Linked DNA regions of Homo sapiens: region 1 is linked to region 2. Evidence: fine-mapped expression QTL. A gene starts in region 2. The other region holds a variant in brackets. All regions are shown on one strand. Distances are between the middles of the regions. Region 1 overlaps CEP85 (centrosomal protein 85). Region 2 holds the start of SH3BGRL3 (SH3 domain binding glutamate rich protein like 3).

Evidence for each region. PIP is the estimated chance that this variant, and not a neighbour inherited with it, causes the effect.
Region 1: its variant is fine-mapped to the expression of SH3BGRL3 in whole blood (TOPMed, PIP above 0.99).

What each region holds. Positions count from the first base shown.
Region 1 is chr1:26,235,328-26,243,655 of GRCh38, reverse strand. CEP85 (centrosomal protein 85) reads right to left here. Exons shown (of 14, transcript NM_001319944.2): 2 at 3,818-3,894. The coding sequence starts at 3,872. Among named protein-coding and RNA genes, the nearest start is that of CEP85, 5.3 kb to the right of the region's middle. The variant C/T (reference allele first, on the strand shown) is at 3,960.
Region 2 is chr1:26,275,258-26,283,585 of GRCh38, reverse strand. It overlaps SH3BGRL3 (SH3 domain binding glutamate rich protein like 3), which reads right to left and starts at 3,500. Exons shown (of 3, transcript NM_031286.4): 1 at 3,383-3,500; 2 at 2,654-2,821; 3 at 2,064-2,528. The coding sequence starts at 3,430. The coding sequence ends at 2,463. It overlaps CEP85 (centrosomal protein 85), which reads right to left. Exons shown (of 14, transcript NM_001319944.2): 13 at 6,826-7,051; 14 at 4,778-6,450. The coding sequence ends at 6,293. UBXN11 (UBX domain protein 11) reads left to right here. Exons shown (of 15, transcript NM_001389556.1): 13 at 649-722; 14 at 797-937; 15 at 1,017-1,304. The coding sequence ends at 1,287. RefSeq lists enhancers at 2,205-3,091, 3,092-3,979, 6,530-7,729 and silencers at 3,219-3,668, 3,145-3,716.

The DNA of each region.
Region 1 (8,328 bases), 40 kb after region 2:
GACCCATGAAGAATCCAGGAGTACTGGAACAGAAAACAATCATATTTAATAGCAGTGGCCATTTATTGAAACCTGTAAAGCCACAGGACCTTACAAACATAATCTTGCCTACCTACTTACTGAAAAGTATTACCACCCCTATTTTACAGAGGGGAGGGCTGATATTTGAATCCAGTTCTTTCTGATTCCAAAACCCACATTCTTTCCTCTTTCTTACAGTTTCTCAATGGTGCTTTTGGCATTCTGGGGATGACCATTCTTCAATGTGTAGTCTATACATTACAGAATGGTTTAGCATCCCTGGTTCCCACTCACTGAATGCCAGCAGCAACCCTCAACCAAGACCACCATCACTGTGAAACCAGAAAATAACCATATAGTTCCAAATGATTCCTAGGGCAACAAGCAGTCCAGTCCCCAGTTGAAAATCATTGCTTCGAGGTTGCAGTGAGCAAAGATTGCGCCACTGCACTCCAGCCTAGGCAACAAGAGCGAAACCCCATCTCAGAAAAAAAAAAAAAAAAAAAGAAAATCACTGCTTCACTGAACCAGGGTACCCTCAATAGGTGAATCCTATTGAGATCAAGGTGAGTTTTGAAAGTCAATCTGAAGAGCCTAGGGCTTTATCTTGAGAGCAACGTGAAGATATCACTAAAACTGCTGAGAAGGTTAAGACAAAAAGACTGATGAGATTTATTTGATTTAAAATATGCTGTTTGGGGGGAGGTAGGTAGGAAGTGTTCAATAAATACTTGATTCACTAACATTCTAGCAAAGACTTAAATTTATTTTCTAAAAACCACTATAATTTTCCTAAGGTGTATCTGGTGATCCATGTAAACAAATAAACAAACAAACAAAAAAACTAATGGCAGCTACTTATCCTCCATTTAACTTAAAGTGTGAAAGCCGATTTCAGAAAATACGGTTCTACAGACTCGCTGATCTAGTGGGAGGCAAATGATTGCTCCCACTAAATGATTACGCCCAAAGTAATTTGGACACAAATTACTTTATTCCTTTCTTCCAAGTTTAGTGCTTCTCTCATCTTTTTAATCTATTTTCTTCTACTTTTGCTCATTTTTTGCTACCCTTACTTTGGCTTTCTACTGAAGGCAACCTGACTTTCCCCAAATACTTCTTCTATTCTTTGGATCACAGTGACTGCCTGATTTGAAAGAATCTTTATACACTCAGTAATCTGTAATTGTTATAGAAGACACAGGCAACAATCCGAGTTTCTGAGCGGCATGAGATTAGCCAATGCTACTATACTAAGTTGGTGTAATTCTAGCCCAAAGCAAAGAAATCCCACCTTCTGGTGAGTCTACACAGCTTTTTCTCTCTAGTCAGTGTAAAATTTGCCAGGCCTTTTGAAACAGTTAAGATTGAGGGCCTCTATTACCATCTTCCTGACTTCCTACTGGAAACCGCTTCCCTGTTACTACTACTAATCTTCCACTCTTCATCGCTACCATTTTTCCATCCACCTACTCCATACCCTAATTCCAAAGAGTTATTTGTTAAAAATATATTTTGGTATATTTATAGAGGTTTACACTTATTTCAAAATTGAAGTTTAAATGCTGAAGTTGGCCGGGTGCAGTGGCTCATGCCTGTAATCCTAGCACTTTGGGAGGCGGGGGTGGGCAGATTACCTGAGCTCAGGAGTTGGAGACCAGCCTGGGCATATGGCGAAACCCGTCTCTACTAAAAATACAAAAAAATTAGCCAGGTGTGGTGGTGCATGCCTGTAATCCCAGCTACTTGGGAGGCTGAGGCACAAGAATCACTTAAACCCAGGAGACAGAAGTTGCAGTGAGCTGAGATTGTGCCACTGCACTCCAGCCTGGGCCACAGAACAAGACTCCGTCTCCAAAAAAAAAAAAGAAAAGCTGAAATTTTTTGTGTTATAGTGCATGTCCTATCAGTAGCATCCTTATCAATTATTAAGACCATTATTAATCTGAATGAGATACTATTGAAGAGAGAAAAAAGCCATAGGAAAGGCATTGTTCCAAAAACTTGCATTATATACATAATTGTCATAGAAACTGTACAAACCTAAGAGAATGTGCAGCACATAGCAGATGTTTAAAAAATATTTCCTGAGGCCGGGTGCAGTGGCTCACGCCTGTAATCCCAGCACTTTGCGAGGCCCAGGCGGGCAGATCACAAGGTCAGGAGATTGAGACCATCCTGGCTAACATGGTGAAACCCCGTCTCTATTAAAAAATGCAAAAAAATTAGCTGGGCATGGTGGCGGGCACCTGTAGTCCCAGCTACTTGGGAGGCTGAGGCAGGAGAATGGCATGAACCCGGGAAGCGGAGCTTGTAGTGAGCCGAGATCACGCCACTGCACTCTAGCCTGGGTGACAGAGCGAGACTCCATTTCAAAAAAAAAAAAAAAATTCTGCTGAATGAATCTTGAATTGATTCAACCAAAGCTTATAATGGTGCCTACTCTATGCAAGGCAGCATGCCTAAGAGAATACACCAAACATTTACCAAATATCTACGCTGAGTAAGGCACTGTGAGATTTTAAAGTTAAATAAAACATACCCTGAGTTGAATTAAACGTGCCCTCTTCTTTACCAATACCCCAGAATTCAACAAGTCATTTTTCTAAAATATTACTTATTTGAAATATATATTATCTACTTAATATGCCTGCACAGTGCATACATATATTTATGTGTTTAATATACAGTCAGCTCTCCATATCCATGGTTTCTTTTTTTTCCCCTTTTTTTTTTTGAGACACAGTCTCACTCTGTTGCCCAGGCTGGAGTGCAGTGGCGTCATCTCAGCTCACCTCAACCTCTGCTTCCCGTGTTCAAGTGATTCTCCTGCCTCAGCCTCCCAAGTAGCTGGGATTATTATAGGCACATGCCACTGCACCCGGCTAATTTTTGTATTTTTAGTAGACATGGAGTTTTACCATGTTGGCCAGGCTGGTCTCAAACTCCTGACCTCAGGTGATCCACCCGCCTTGGGCTCCCAAAGTGCTGGGATTACAGGCATGAGCCACAGCGCCTGGCCATATCCGTGGTTTCTACGTTTGTGAATTCAACCAATTTTTTTTTTTAATGGTATCTTACTGAATGTGCATAAGACTTGTTTTTCTTCTTATTCCCCAAACAATACAGTATAACTATTTACATAGCATTTACATTGCATTGGGTATTACAAGTAATCTAGAGACGATTTAAGGTAAACATTAGGATATACACAGGTTATATGCAAATACCACACCATTTTATATCAGGGACTTGAGTATCTGTGGATTTTGCTATCTGCAGGAGGTCTTGGAACCAGTCCGCCATGGACACTTAAGGACTGTATATATTTAATATATCTACTGAAGTTTCAAAATCTTGTTAATCCATTCTGAAGATAAATTCCTGAGTTTCTAGTAACAATGCAACGGAATCTGTTGGCATCCAAGCAGAATTCCTATTTTTGTGGGCTAGCAGATGACTGACCCACCCAGAGGACAAAGACAACATAGAACACAGTAATTTATGCTGTGTTTTTCTGATTTCAAATGGAACTATGTTCCAAAGTCATTCTGTTCCAATCCTTTATATGTCGTCCTCTCCCAACCACGTGGTCCTGTTGAAAGCCACATAGCACAAGAGATAAATACTTGTTCCCTCAGAGACCTGTTTTTATATTCAATGAAGCCCCATGTTATTTTTATTCTTTTAGCACCAGCATTTCAGTGAATGCTTGTTTGTTCAATATTTACCTTAAGGAATATGAAAAAACAGAACAAAGGTCAGAATTTAACCCAGAAAACTTCTGACTACTCACTCGGTGAAGTGACGTGAGAGATCCCCTCAGTTGGATATTTCTCCTGCATGGCCATCAATCACAGTTATTTAAGCCAACTGTAGAATGAAGGAATAACCAGTCAGTTCTCTGAAGTATCTTTAATTCCCCGCAACTCAGTTCC[C/T]ATTCAACTGAAACTGTCAAAACCATATAGAATATTCAAGTATTTGGCCAGGCACAGTGGCTCACACCTGTAATCCCAGCACTTTGGGAGGCCAAGGCGGGCAGATCAACTGAGGTCAGGAGTTCGAGACCAGCCTGACCAACATGGGGAAACCCCATTTCTACTAAAAACACAAAAATTGGCCGGGCATGGTGGCACACATCTGTAGTCCCAGCTACTTGGGAGGCTGAGGCACAAGGATTGCTTGAACCCGGGAGGCAGAGGTTTCAGTGAGCCAAGATCACACCACTGCACTCCAGCCTGGGCAACTGAGCAAGACTCCATCTCAAAAAAAATAAAAAAGAATATTCCAGTATTCTAAATGTTATATTCCTAAGGATATTTAGGAGTAAATATGTTTTTACATGTTTTACTTCTAAGGATATTTTTAAGACAAAGTAAATCCCAATACTCCACTCTACTTCTCTTCCCAAATCCAGTATAGAAAACCTAGAACCAGAGATTACCAATACAGATTCCATACGGTCCTAGAACCCTTCTGATTTTTATAAAATTTAAAAATATTACTTTTAATTAACAAACTTTACCATGAATCTTCTTAGCCATGGGGACCTGATGACAGGACGAGGTGGATAAAGAACTAAAGAACTAAACCAACAGTGAAGTATTACAGCATCAATTATGATTAACACAAAACAAATTCCTCAATTCTTCCAGTAATTAAAGTCAGTCATACGATGTAAAAAGATGGGAAAGAATTCTTGCTCATAAGTAGAACTCCAATCCTGAGCTAGGAACGTGAAGTTCTCGTCCCATGTTCTCACTCCTTAAAATATTTATATTTACAGTACACTAGGGGTAGGTGCTGAGAATTCAGCAGAAGTGGATTTGAAGTCTAAACAAATACACTTGAACCCACTAAACATTAAGTTATCAATTTATTAGCTGTGTAACCTTGGGCAAATTTCTTAGTATCTCTGTTCCTCATTTTCTTCATATAAAAATGAGGATAACAACACAACCTAATTCATGTTAATTCACTTATAATTAACTTACAACAGTTCCTGACACATACTAAGTGCTGTTATTACTTGGCAATTTACATCAACAAAAGTAGCACTGTACAGCCCATGGAAGATCAAGGAGTATCAACTCAGAAACTCTAAATTTATAAAAGCCCCAAAAGAGTTTGGGACAATTCGGCCGGGCTCAGTGGCTCACGCCTGTAATCCCAGCACTTTGGGAGGCCGAGGCAGGCGGATCACCTGAGGTCAGGAGTTCGAGACCAGCCAACATGGTGAAACCCCGTCTCTACTAAAAATACAAAAATTAGCCAGGCATGGTGGCAGGCGCCTGTAATCCCAGCTACTTGGGAGGCTGAGGCAGGAGAATCGCTTGGACCATGGAGGCGGAGGCTGCAGTGAGCCAAGATCGCGCCATTGCACTCCAGCCTGGGCGACAGAGCAAGACTCCGTCTCAAAAAAAAAAAAAAAAGAGTTTGGGACAATTCACAGAACATAATTCTATCACTCTGGAGAAAAAAGACTATATGGTACTATTTCTCTAATGTACTTTAGTGACCTCTATAGTATTCTCTTGTTACTAAGAGAATACTATAGAGGTCACTAAAGTACATAACAACCCAAACCCTTATTAATTCACTGCATCTACAATAGAAAGGGTATCATCCTCCACAATTCCAGTTCTTCACATACTGGGTGAGGGAAGCTTTGTTCAGTAATAAAAGCTTTAGTTTATGGCAAGTATGATTCAGTGAGTTAAATGATGACATAGAATGATTAGATTACCTCCTTACTAGTGATTTCCTTTCTTGTCAATATCAAAATCCTTTTCTTCACTCCTTTCTTTAAAGGATAACAAAATGGTAGGCGCACTGGATTCTAAGGTGTTTCTAAATTCAGACAAGTTGAAAATACGGTGACAGAAGGAGAACTCCGAGTTACCCTATGACTCAGCAATTCCACACTGAAGTATACACCCAAGAGAAATGAAAACACAGGTTTACACAAAAGCTTCAATAAGAATGTTCGTAGCAGCATTATTTACAATAGCCAAAAAGTGGAAACAACACAAACGTCCATGAGCTAATGAATGGATACATAAAATGTGGTATATCCAAAAAACAGAGTATTATTCAGCAATAAAAGGAAGTACTGATACATGTGACAACATGGATGAACACTGAAGACATGCAAAGTCAAAGAAGCCAAACAAAAGGCTTGATCCTATTTATATGAAATGTCAGAATAGGCAAATCCATAGAGACACAGATTAGTGATTGCAAAGGACTGAGAGGAGGGAGGGTAGGAGAATAGGAAGGGACTGCTAATGGATACCGGGTTTCTTTTCAGGGTGATCAAAATGTTCTGAGATTAGATAGTGGTGACTGACTGCACAACCTTGCCAATATATTAAAAACCTCTGAATTGCACACACATAAAATTAAATTTTATGTTATGTGATATAAGCCAAAAAAAAAATTCTAAGACATCCCCAACCACCTGAATGGATCCCTCCCCTTGGCCAATGGCATTCCAAAGTTAAGCTGAAAAACCTGTTAAGGCCATGATGGTGGTAGTGGTGGTGGAGTCCTACACCCCTCATTATACCCTCCTCCCTTCTGGAATTTAGGAAAAGCATTAACATTAACACAGATGTCTGTAAGAAACATTTATAATCTATTCTCTCTAAAGCCTACTATTTGGAGGCTTCATCTGTACAATAAAATGTTGATCCCCAGGATACCTTAACCCAGACATTCCTTTCTATTGATAACAACTTTCAACCAACTGCCAATCAGAAAATTTTGAAATCTACCTATGACCTGGAAGCCCCCACCCACTAAGAGTTGTCTTACCCTTCCAGATCAATGTAAATCTTACATGTATTTGACTGATGTCTCATGTCTACCTAAAATGTTTAAAACCAGGGCACACGTTATCAGGATCACCTGAGGGCTGTGTCAGGGGCCACTGGTCACCCATATTTGGCTCAGAATAAATCCCTTCAAATATTTCAGAGTCTGACCCTCATTGACAACAAATATCTCAAAAAAGAAAAACAGAAAGAAAGAAACCCCGTAAGGAGTAAAACAATACAAAATAAATCATTCTTGACTTAAGAATTAGATGAGCTACTGGTGGAAATTTTTGGGACAACTGAAGGAGACAGAAATTTCCTGGGATAAAAATGAGAGAAGTGAATGTACAAGAAGTAACACACCAGTTATAAAGCTTAGAAAGGGAGTGAATGGAGGCAGACAGAGGGGAAAAAAAAAAAAAGCACCCAACAGGATTGGTTTCCATCTTCAAAGCCCTTTAAACTACAGAAACAGTCACTCATTCAACAAATTTAACATGCATTCTGCACTTACTACCTATCAAACACTGTGCTCAACACTTTTTAAGTATCATGTCTCATGTTTCATGTTCACATCAACCCTATGAGGCAGTTACTATTATCCTCATTTTATGGATGAGAAAATAAAGGTTTACAGTAGTGAAGGTCATATGGCTAGGAAGAGGCTTCAAAGCCAGGACTGTACTCTAACGCTACAGTAGTCTAGTCAGCATTCTACATGTGACAAAACACAAAAAAAGAGATCAAGCATGGCACCACAAGTTGGAGTTTCTGCCTCAGACAGCTAGAGCTGCAAGCCTCAATTATATGAGCAGTAAAAGCTCATAAAATTTCTTCACTTTGTCCTTGGTCATCACCTAGGCTTTATTTCTCAAGTTGCTACCCAAGAATTAGATTTTGACTGCCGTAAGTATTTTTCCCCTATAAGAATTACAATCTAAGTGTGGCCGGGCGTGGTGGCTCACGCCTGTAATCCCAGCATTTTGGGAGGCCGAGGCGGGCGGATCACCTGAGGTCGGGAGTTTGAGACCAGCCTGACCAACATGGAGAAACGCCGTCTCTACTAAAAATACAAAATTATCCGTGCATGGTGGCGCATGCCTGTAATCCCAGCTACTCGGGAGGCTGAGGCAGGAGAATCGCTTGAACCTGGGAGGCGGAGGTTGCGGTGAGCCGACATCGCGCCACGGCACTCCAGCCTGGGCAACAAGAGCAAAACTCCGTCTCACAAAAAAAAAAAAAAAAAAAAGAATTACAATCTAAGTGTGGAACATCATGCTTGGCAGCTGTTAAGAGAACCACATCAAGACAAGAGAGGATTTGAAGGGATACACAGACAGCTGACACAGACACACGAAGGATCTCACACCATTACACTATTTTCACCGCCTTGATCATTCATTAAACCTTGTGAAAGAGAAGCCAAATCCTTGACAAGAAGTTGCCTTTACAAAGAAAAGTCGTGAGACATACAAAACCACCAGATCAC
Region 2 (8,328 bases):
ACAGCTGCCTCCCACTGCCACTCCTGCCCCTGCTGACCATCCTCCAGGCTGCCTTCCCTGTTGAAATGTTCCAGTGGTTCTTGAGATAAAGCCAGGTTCCTTATGCTGGCACTCAAGGCCCGTCCTATATTGCCAGGCCCCTCCTCACACCAACCTTTTCCTTCCAGTCCAATTGAGCCCCAGCTTCAGCCACACATAATGCTGGCAGTTGCCCAAATGTGTCGCCACCTCTAGGAAGCTTTCCCTGAACCCAGGATCTTTGTTGATGCTGTCTGGAATATCCCTGCATCCATTCCATTTCTAAGGACTCCCATTCATCCTTCAGTCACAGCTCAGTTGTCATTTTCCGAGGGAAGCCTTCCCTGACCCCAGGCTGGGGTGGGCTTCCAGCCTGATCATCGTCTGTGTGGGGTTCTGTCTCCATTAGACTGAAACGGGGGGTTACCTGGGGGGAACCATGGGGCTGCCTCCCAGAACCTTCTTCCCCTTCCATTGCCTCTCCTCTGGCCTTGGTTTATACAGAACACCCCCTCCCGCTTTGCTCACTGGTCTCATCTGTCCCTGGTCAAGGAAGTGTCCCTCTAAGGTTTGTGGGGATGACTCAAATGGGGCCTAGGGCTCTGTCCACCCTCCACTGATACCTTCCAGAACTGCTGCCCATTGCCTGCCCGGATCCAGGAGATTGTGGTGGAGACGCCCACCTTGGCCGCTGAGCGAGAGAGGTGAGGGCGGGATGAGGAGGTGAGGGCCTGGGGGCGTTGGGTCACCGCGTGCTGATGGCCTCTGGGCTGTGCAGGAGCCAGGAGTCACCCAACACGCCGGCACCCCCGCTCTCCATGCTGCGCATCAAGTCTGAGAATGGGGAACAGGCCTTCCTACTGATGATGCAGCCTGACAACACCATTGGGGACGTGCGAGCTCTGCTAGCGCAGGCCAGGTGGGTGCAGGGCAGGGCCAGGGCCACAGAGGGGCTCTGGTCCCACTGCCCAGCCTGATCTGCTCTGCCTGGTCCCCAGGGTCATGGATGCCTCTGCCTTTGAGATCTTCAGCACATTCCCGCCCACCCTCTACCAGGACGATACACTCACGCTGCAGGCTGCAGGCCTTGTGCCCAAAGCAGCACTGCTGCTGCGGGCACGCCGAGCCCCGAAGTCCAGCCTGAAATTCAGTCCTGGTCCCTGTCCCGGTCCCGGTCCCGGCCCCAGTCCCGGTCCCGGTCCCGGCCCCAGTCCCGGTCCCGGTCCCGGCCCCAGTCCCTGTCCTGGACCCAGTCCCAGCCCCCAATAAAGCACCCGCCCCCTCAACCCGCTGCTCCGCCAGGCTCTTGGGTGGGCCATCTCGCCAGGCACGTAGGAAAGGCCTGGGACCAGCTGGGCCAGGGAGGGGGCGGTGCCGACCCGCCCCTTGGTAACTCGAGCCCCGGCTGGCGGGCCTGGCTGCTGGGTCTTTGTCTTCTAGGTTCCTCTTTCTCCCAAGAAGGGCTAAGTGGATCCTGTGAAGGGAGGGATGCAGTGGGGGGAAGGAGCTGGCCCCAGCTGGGTTTACATTCTCAGCTGGGACAGCAGAGCCTCACTGTGTATGTGTGCAGCCAGCAGATACCTGTGCACAGGCACAGACCCACCAACTCGTGGGGACACTTCAACACCGCACAAAGCCATTTTGCCACTAGACCCATGCCCCCAAATTAGCAGAACTGCAGCTGGGTACCCACCTCCCATGATACACTCATTCTTAGCCATTGTGCTCCAACACAGGCGCATGGGATGGCCACACTCACTGACAGGCATGGAGATGTGCACTACACACCAAGGCACAAGCATGATATGGACACATGCATGTGAACTGGAGGGTGGCCCACCCAGACATCTCCAGAAACCACTGGTCCATACAGGTATTTGTGTGTCAGACATATCCAAACACATGCACTAACAAACACAGAGGTGACAGTCACAAGAGAACAGCTCAGCCACCCTTCCCACAGAGCAGTCTCAGCACAGTCACAACTACCAACCTTGCCCAGGGCAGGGACCCAGGAGGCCCAGGCCACAACCAACCAGACACAGTGCCAATGGAACAGGACATCATTTAATTGCCTCTAGGGTCCTCCTGGGAGAGGGACTGCGGGGCCTTTGGCAGAGCTCTGGCTGATGGAACCAACAGAGGTGCCCATCAGCCAGTGCCAGGCAGGATGGCGGCCCCAATGCTTGGCTGGGGGCAGCCAGCATTTGGGGCTGTTGCTTAAGACAATTTCTGAGACTAATGGGTAAGGAATGTTGCCTTTAGATGGAGGAGAGGGGACTACATTTAGAGAGGAGGGAGGAGAAGTGGCCTGCATTGGGGGAGGGACTCTAAGGTTAGGTTAGGAATGACAGGGAGTTGGTCAAAAGGTCCTTCATGGCCAGGTGAAGGCTGGGGGGAGTGTGGTGATGGAGTCCAGCAGGGGAACTCTGGACAGGCTTGACTCAAGCCAGCTTCAGGAACTCCTGCAGCGTGTTTTGTTCCACAGCCTCCACGAAGAGCTCATAGTCCTGGAGAAGGGGAGGCGAGGGGTGGTCACCTGAATGCAGGGGGCCCAAGTGCTTTGTGGCAGATATGACCCTGGCTAGAGTCCTCTTCCAACACTCCCCCCACCCCCCCGTCCCCCAGCCCATACCCCACAGTACTGGTCCCCGTTGACAATCTGGGGTGGGGTGGCCTTGGGGTTGCCTGCCAAGGCTCGCATCTCATCCCTCAGGGCGTTGTCCTGGGAGATGTCCACTAGCTGGTATTGGATGCGCTTCCCATCCAGGATTCGGGTCACCTCGCTCTGCTGGGACTTGATCTGGGGACAGAGGGTGGGTAGGGGTTAGTGGATAGGCTGGAGGATTTATGGGGGAAATGCTGGGCAGGGTGAGAGAGGCTGTGACCAGGAGCTTTTGTCCCCCCATTCCCCTCCACACTAGGGGAGGGTTCTGGCCTCTAGGAGTTGGGAGGATGAGTCAGGCTTGAGGTGGTGCAGGATGAAGAGAGGGATTATCAGCCACGGGGGAGGGGGTCAGAGTGAAGGGAAGTGGGATCAGGCTCAGGGTGGGGAGGGGAGGGGAGGGCAGGCTGCGGTCGTGGTCAGGGTCAGCCCGGTAGTGGGAGTGCAGAGAATGGGTGTGGGGTTGATGGGGGATGGGCACGGGAAGTTCATGCCGCGGCTGCAAAGGACCCAGGATGCCCGATGAAGACATTCAGGATGGGGCCTCGGGACCGGGTCCGGGAGACCGTGCCCAGCACCTCGCCGACGCACTCCCCCCACCCCGCCCCCGTCCTGGGGGTGGGTCCCGGGCGCTAGGGTCCAAAGCACCGGGATACAGCCCTGCGCTTTCCCCCAGCGCCAGTCCGGGCGCGCACTTACTTCGCGGGAGCCGGTGACCGACGTGCTGTAGACGCGCAGGCCGCTCATGCTGGGGGTAGACAGACGGGCCGGCGGGCAGAGGGCGGCGGTAGCGGCAGCTGCACTGCCGGGAGACGACGCCGCCGCCGTGCTCGGGAGCGGTTTCCTTCCTGCTCCGCCCGCCAAGTCATCGCGCTCGGGACCAATGGGCGGCGCGGGCAGGCGGGGTGGGACCTGCGCGACACCGCCCCGCACGCCAGAGGCCCCTTCCCTTCCCCCTCGGTTACCAGGCGCGCAACGGACCCGTCCCACGCAGGGCGCCCCTTCTGCGGCTGCCCTGATCGTCCTTTTCGGCCCTTCCCTGATCTGGAGCTCAGTGTGAGACTGGGGAGGGGCCTGGGTGGCAGGACAGGCCCGGGAGAGGGTCTGGCAGAAGCCTCCCTCTCCAGCCGCACACAGGTTTGGTGCATCCAACTCCCCAGCCACGAGAGCCGCTCTCTCCAGGAGGAGGTGCTCTAATAGCACAGGGAAGCTTGGGGCTTTGGAAGGTTTGAGCTGCTTTCAGACCCAAAGTTCTCTAAGAACCTTGCTCCAAGGGATCCCTCGCTCCACCACCCAACACGCACCACTAACCCTAGGGGATAGGAAGCATAGGACAGCAGGAAGAGCCCATGCTTAGAGATTTTCCCCCAAGTTCCTCTCCACTCAGGTGGGAAGGTTTAGACAAGGAAGGGTGATAGCAGGACGCAGAGGCCACACCCTCAAGGAACCAGATGGAGACCAAGGCTGACAGCTGGAAAGCGTGGCGGTAGAGGATGATGTCAGGACTCGAGAGCCTAGGCTCAAGCTGACCCTTAAGATCCACCCCAGGTCTTGGGGTGGTCCAAGCTCAACCCCAGCTCCATGCTGCAGATGGCATTCCCAAACTGCTACTACTCCCAGCAAGAATTCAGCGGTTGAGGGGGCAGACTCCAGCAACGAGCCCAACTTTGGAGACCTAGCTGTCTGGCACTCAACATCATGCTTCTCAGATGTCCCCCTGGTCCAGGGCTCAGGCAGGTTAACAGCCCAGAAAGACAACCCTTGCTCTGGTAAAGCCACTTCCTCACAGCAACCCAGAGGCTGCCAACTTCCTGAGAGGACTGCTGAAACTTTCCAGTGACAAACTTCTGTTATGACTCAGGGAAGGTTTGCCCAAGAGAAAGTGAGTGGGAAGAGATCTGGTTCTATAGAACGACAGAGGAGCAGAGGTGGCAGAGATAGATAGGGACATGAGGCTGGCTGGACCTGCCAAAGGTTCCTCCACGCTGCTGCCTGGGGGACCTGGCTGAACACCCAGGTGTTTGGCTCTAACAAGCCAAAGTGAGGGGTAGAATAGCGTGGTGGTGGTGATGGAAGGGTATGGAAAACTGAGGAGTCTGTTAAGATACTTTATTTTATAATCAAAATACGCAATACAAACAAATGGACATAACAAAGATTCATATAAATAACTGGTTATAAACTTTATGAGGAAAAATACCCGTCAGCATGGTGGCTGGGCTCCCAATGCACAGGGTGGAGACCAACCAGGCGGCTCTGCCTTTAAGCAGCAGGAGCCCAGAGGCTGAAGGGCTGGCTGGGTGGGGCTGCTCTGAATGGAAGGGATAAGTCACTCCATAAATAAAACACAAACTTGTAAAAACACTTAAGAAAGAGCCTCATTCAGGCCCAGGCATGAGGTCCAAGATGCTGCCAACAGCCCAAAGCTTAGCAAAAATCTTGTAGTGGCTGACTGGCCCACACGTGGCCCCTGCCTGGCCTGGCTCCAGATCTAGAGGAGGCACGGCTGGCCCAACAACCAGATACTAACAAGTGTGAGATGCTCCCTAAACCAGGAGGCAAGAAAAACCAGAGGGCAAAGGTCCCTCACTAAAGCCCCAGAGAAACAACCCAGGAAACACTAAAAGCTGTACTTTAAAGCTGACTTGTACTGGGTACTCTGAACTTTCAAGGAGGCCAGAGCAGGAAAGGGAAAGGAATAACCCCCACCACCCCCAACACAAGAGAGGCACAAATTAGAGGGCTGGGCACAGGCTGTAGCCCTGGGTGAGGGGGTAAGCAGCTTGACAGTTGCTCTGTGGTCTCTGGGATATAATTCTGCCCAAGGCTAGAACCACAGAGAAGAGTTTGCACTCTTAAGTCCAGGAAGGGGACTACCTGGAAGGCCTGAGAACAAAGGAGAAAGTTTAGCACACTAAACACATGGCCAGGACCCTAGGGACACAAGGCAGCTGGAGAGTGGGATCTCTTGTTAAATGGCATGGTAGGCAGATTAGAGTCCTGGCTATAATCCCTAGGGCCCCAATCCTAGTAGTTACGTGCTAACCAACACATTACCCTGAGGCTTCTGGGAGAACAAGAGCCCTGAGGAAGAAGCAGTAAGACCAGGCATGAGAAAACCCAGAAAGCCAGCTCAGTTCCCAAGAAGGCTGGCACATGGGGCCTGAGAATTCTTAAATGGCCATTGTCACTGGTACTTGCTCAGCCTTTCCAGGCCCCTCTGATGAGCTCTCTAATCAGCAGGACCAAGGTGTGAAGTGGGAATGAACATGGATCCATCCCATTGGATGGAGAAGAAAGGTGGACAGCCTGTTCGTCTCTCATGTCAGCCTAGGGCTGGGAACAGTTTGTGAGGACTTATCTGTTGTACCTGCCAAAAGTTAATTAGTAACTCACCGTCTAGAGTGAATTAACAGGACAAACGTAATCCAACATGCCAGTGTGGGTAGGACACAGTTCCCTAATCAGCCCTTGGCCCCCAGATGCAGGCTCTCCCCTCCCCTCTGAGACCTCTCTGGGAATAGCAGACAAGAGAATGTCAGGGCAGAAACCTGCTGGACTAGGCTCTCAGCAGCCCAGCTCCTCCCTGGGGGAATCCCCCAGAATTCCTCACTGTGTGACACAGTTTTCTCCCATGTCCTGGGCATATCTGTCTGACATGGTGGTCCTTAAGTCCTCAATGTCACGACGCAGCTGTTGAACCTCTTCTAGTTTCCTCTTGATCACATCTGGCTTCTGCAAATCTAGCTGAGTCTCTGGGTGCTGTGCTGCTGGGGAGAAGAGCATTTCAAGAGAATGTTAGTTATGAGACATTTTCATGTGGAGGGTGCAGTATGGATAGGCAGTATCTTGAACCCACAGTCTTGGGACATGCACTTTAAAAAAAGCATCTGGGGACAGTGGGTTAATTTGCTGCTGAAGGTCCACTTTTAGTTTGTCCTGCATGCAAGTACCCCATAGCTTGTTTCCAAAAACAGATTTGTGAACACCTACTTTGTGAAACAAATAAATGTCCAGAGGGCAGTGGCCAGGACTATGTACTCTGTCTACATATTACCACAAGAATATGGGAAAGCAGGATGGGGGAGAGAAGAGAAAGAAGGACCCTCCTTCCTGGGCCCCAGACTGGTCTGAGGACTCACAGTGAATGCCCAGGAGCAGGGAGAGATTGGGGTCATGGCCCTGGGCCCTCTGGGTCACAATGCTACAGACAGCCTGCAGATCTTGAAGGCAACTGGCCAACTCCTGGTGCAGCTCAAGTGCCAGCTGGGCCGTGTCTGGTGAAGGTGGAGACCCTGGTTGGGCCTGGCGCAGGTGTTCCTGGAGTGTCAGATTCTTCTCAATCAAGTCCTGGTTTTGCACTGAAAGCTGAGCAGACAGATGGGTAAGCACATTAACTCAGGCCCAGGGAGAGGAAGAGTATCTGTGCATGAGTGTGTGGGTGTGGAAGGGATGGGTGAGTCATAGGCAGTGTCCCTCCTTCCCCAACCCTACCCCTGCCAACAGGCTTTTAGCACTTCTCCCACTATCAGTATCAGGCCTGGTTCTTCCTGTGGGTAGGTTGGGCCCACAGGGCTCTAGCACTGGAGAGGAAGCCAACCCTCAACTGGTTCTGAATCATCAGCATCCAAGTTTCTGTTCAAGAACCAGAGAAGATGCTCCCGCCCCTAGGAACTCTATCTCAAGCCAGTCCCTCAGCCAACTCTGTTAGCCAGGCTATTAGAGAAGGCTTAATGTGAACCGTGAAATCTGAGGAGACACTGGTTTCAATCTCTCCCTGCCACCCTGACAAAAGTGGCCACCAGCCAGCCTGATCACAGTGTGTCAGAGGAATAAAGAGAGTAAGAAAGACAATATGACAGCTAGTAGCCACTAGGTGGGGGGCTGGAGAAGCTGGAACCTGGAGGATCCAGCCCTGGAACAAGTCCTGCCTTTTCAAACTCTCACCTCAGTGGAGTCAGACTTTATTACAAAAACCATCTATTCATGTATGTCTGTCTGTTTCCCTCTCTTCCTGACAGCTTAATCCACTTTCCTTCCCTTCCTACCTTGATTGTATTTTTATAGAGTCTGAATAGAGTCCGTCCTTCAGTCCCAGGCCCTCCACCCACACTGGGCCATGTGACAATCCTAACTCAAGGAGGTTCCTTCCTAGGCACTAGGCCAGTCAGTGAACTTGGTTGCCCCCTGCTGACAGCTCTGTTTAGTGCATGAAGGCCACCAAATCCTCAGTCTTCTTGAACTCTCCACTCCCCAACCCCAGAAACCTGTGGCTTCAAGACAAAGGAAGAGAGAATGACTTTCCCCATCAAAAAGCATTCCTGGGCCCAGCGCAGTGGCTCACGACTGTAATCCCAGCACTTTGGGAGGCCAAAGTGGGCGGATCACAAGGTCAGGAGATGAAGACCATTCTGGCCAACATGGTGAAACCCCACCTCAACTAAAATACAAAAAATTAGCCGGGCGTGGTGGCGCGTGCCTGTAGTCCCAGCTACACAGGAGGCTGAGGCAGGGGAATCGCTTGAACCTGGGAGGCGGAGGTTGCAGTGAGCCGAGATTGCGCCACTGCACTCTAGCCTGGCGACAGAGCAAGACTCTGTCTTAAAAAAAAAAAAAAAACCTTCCTAGGTAATAATTATGGACAT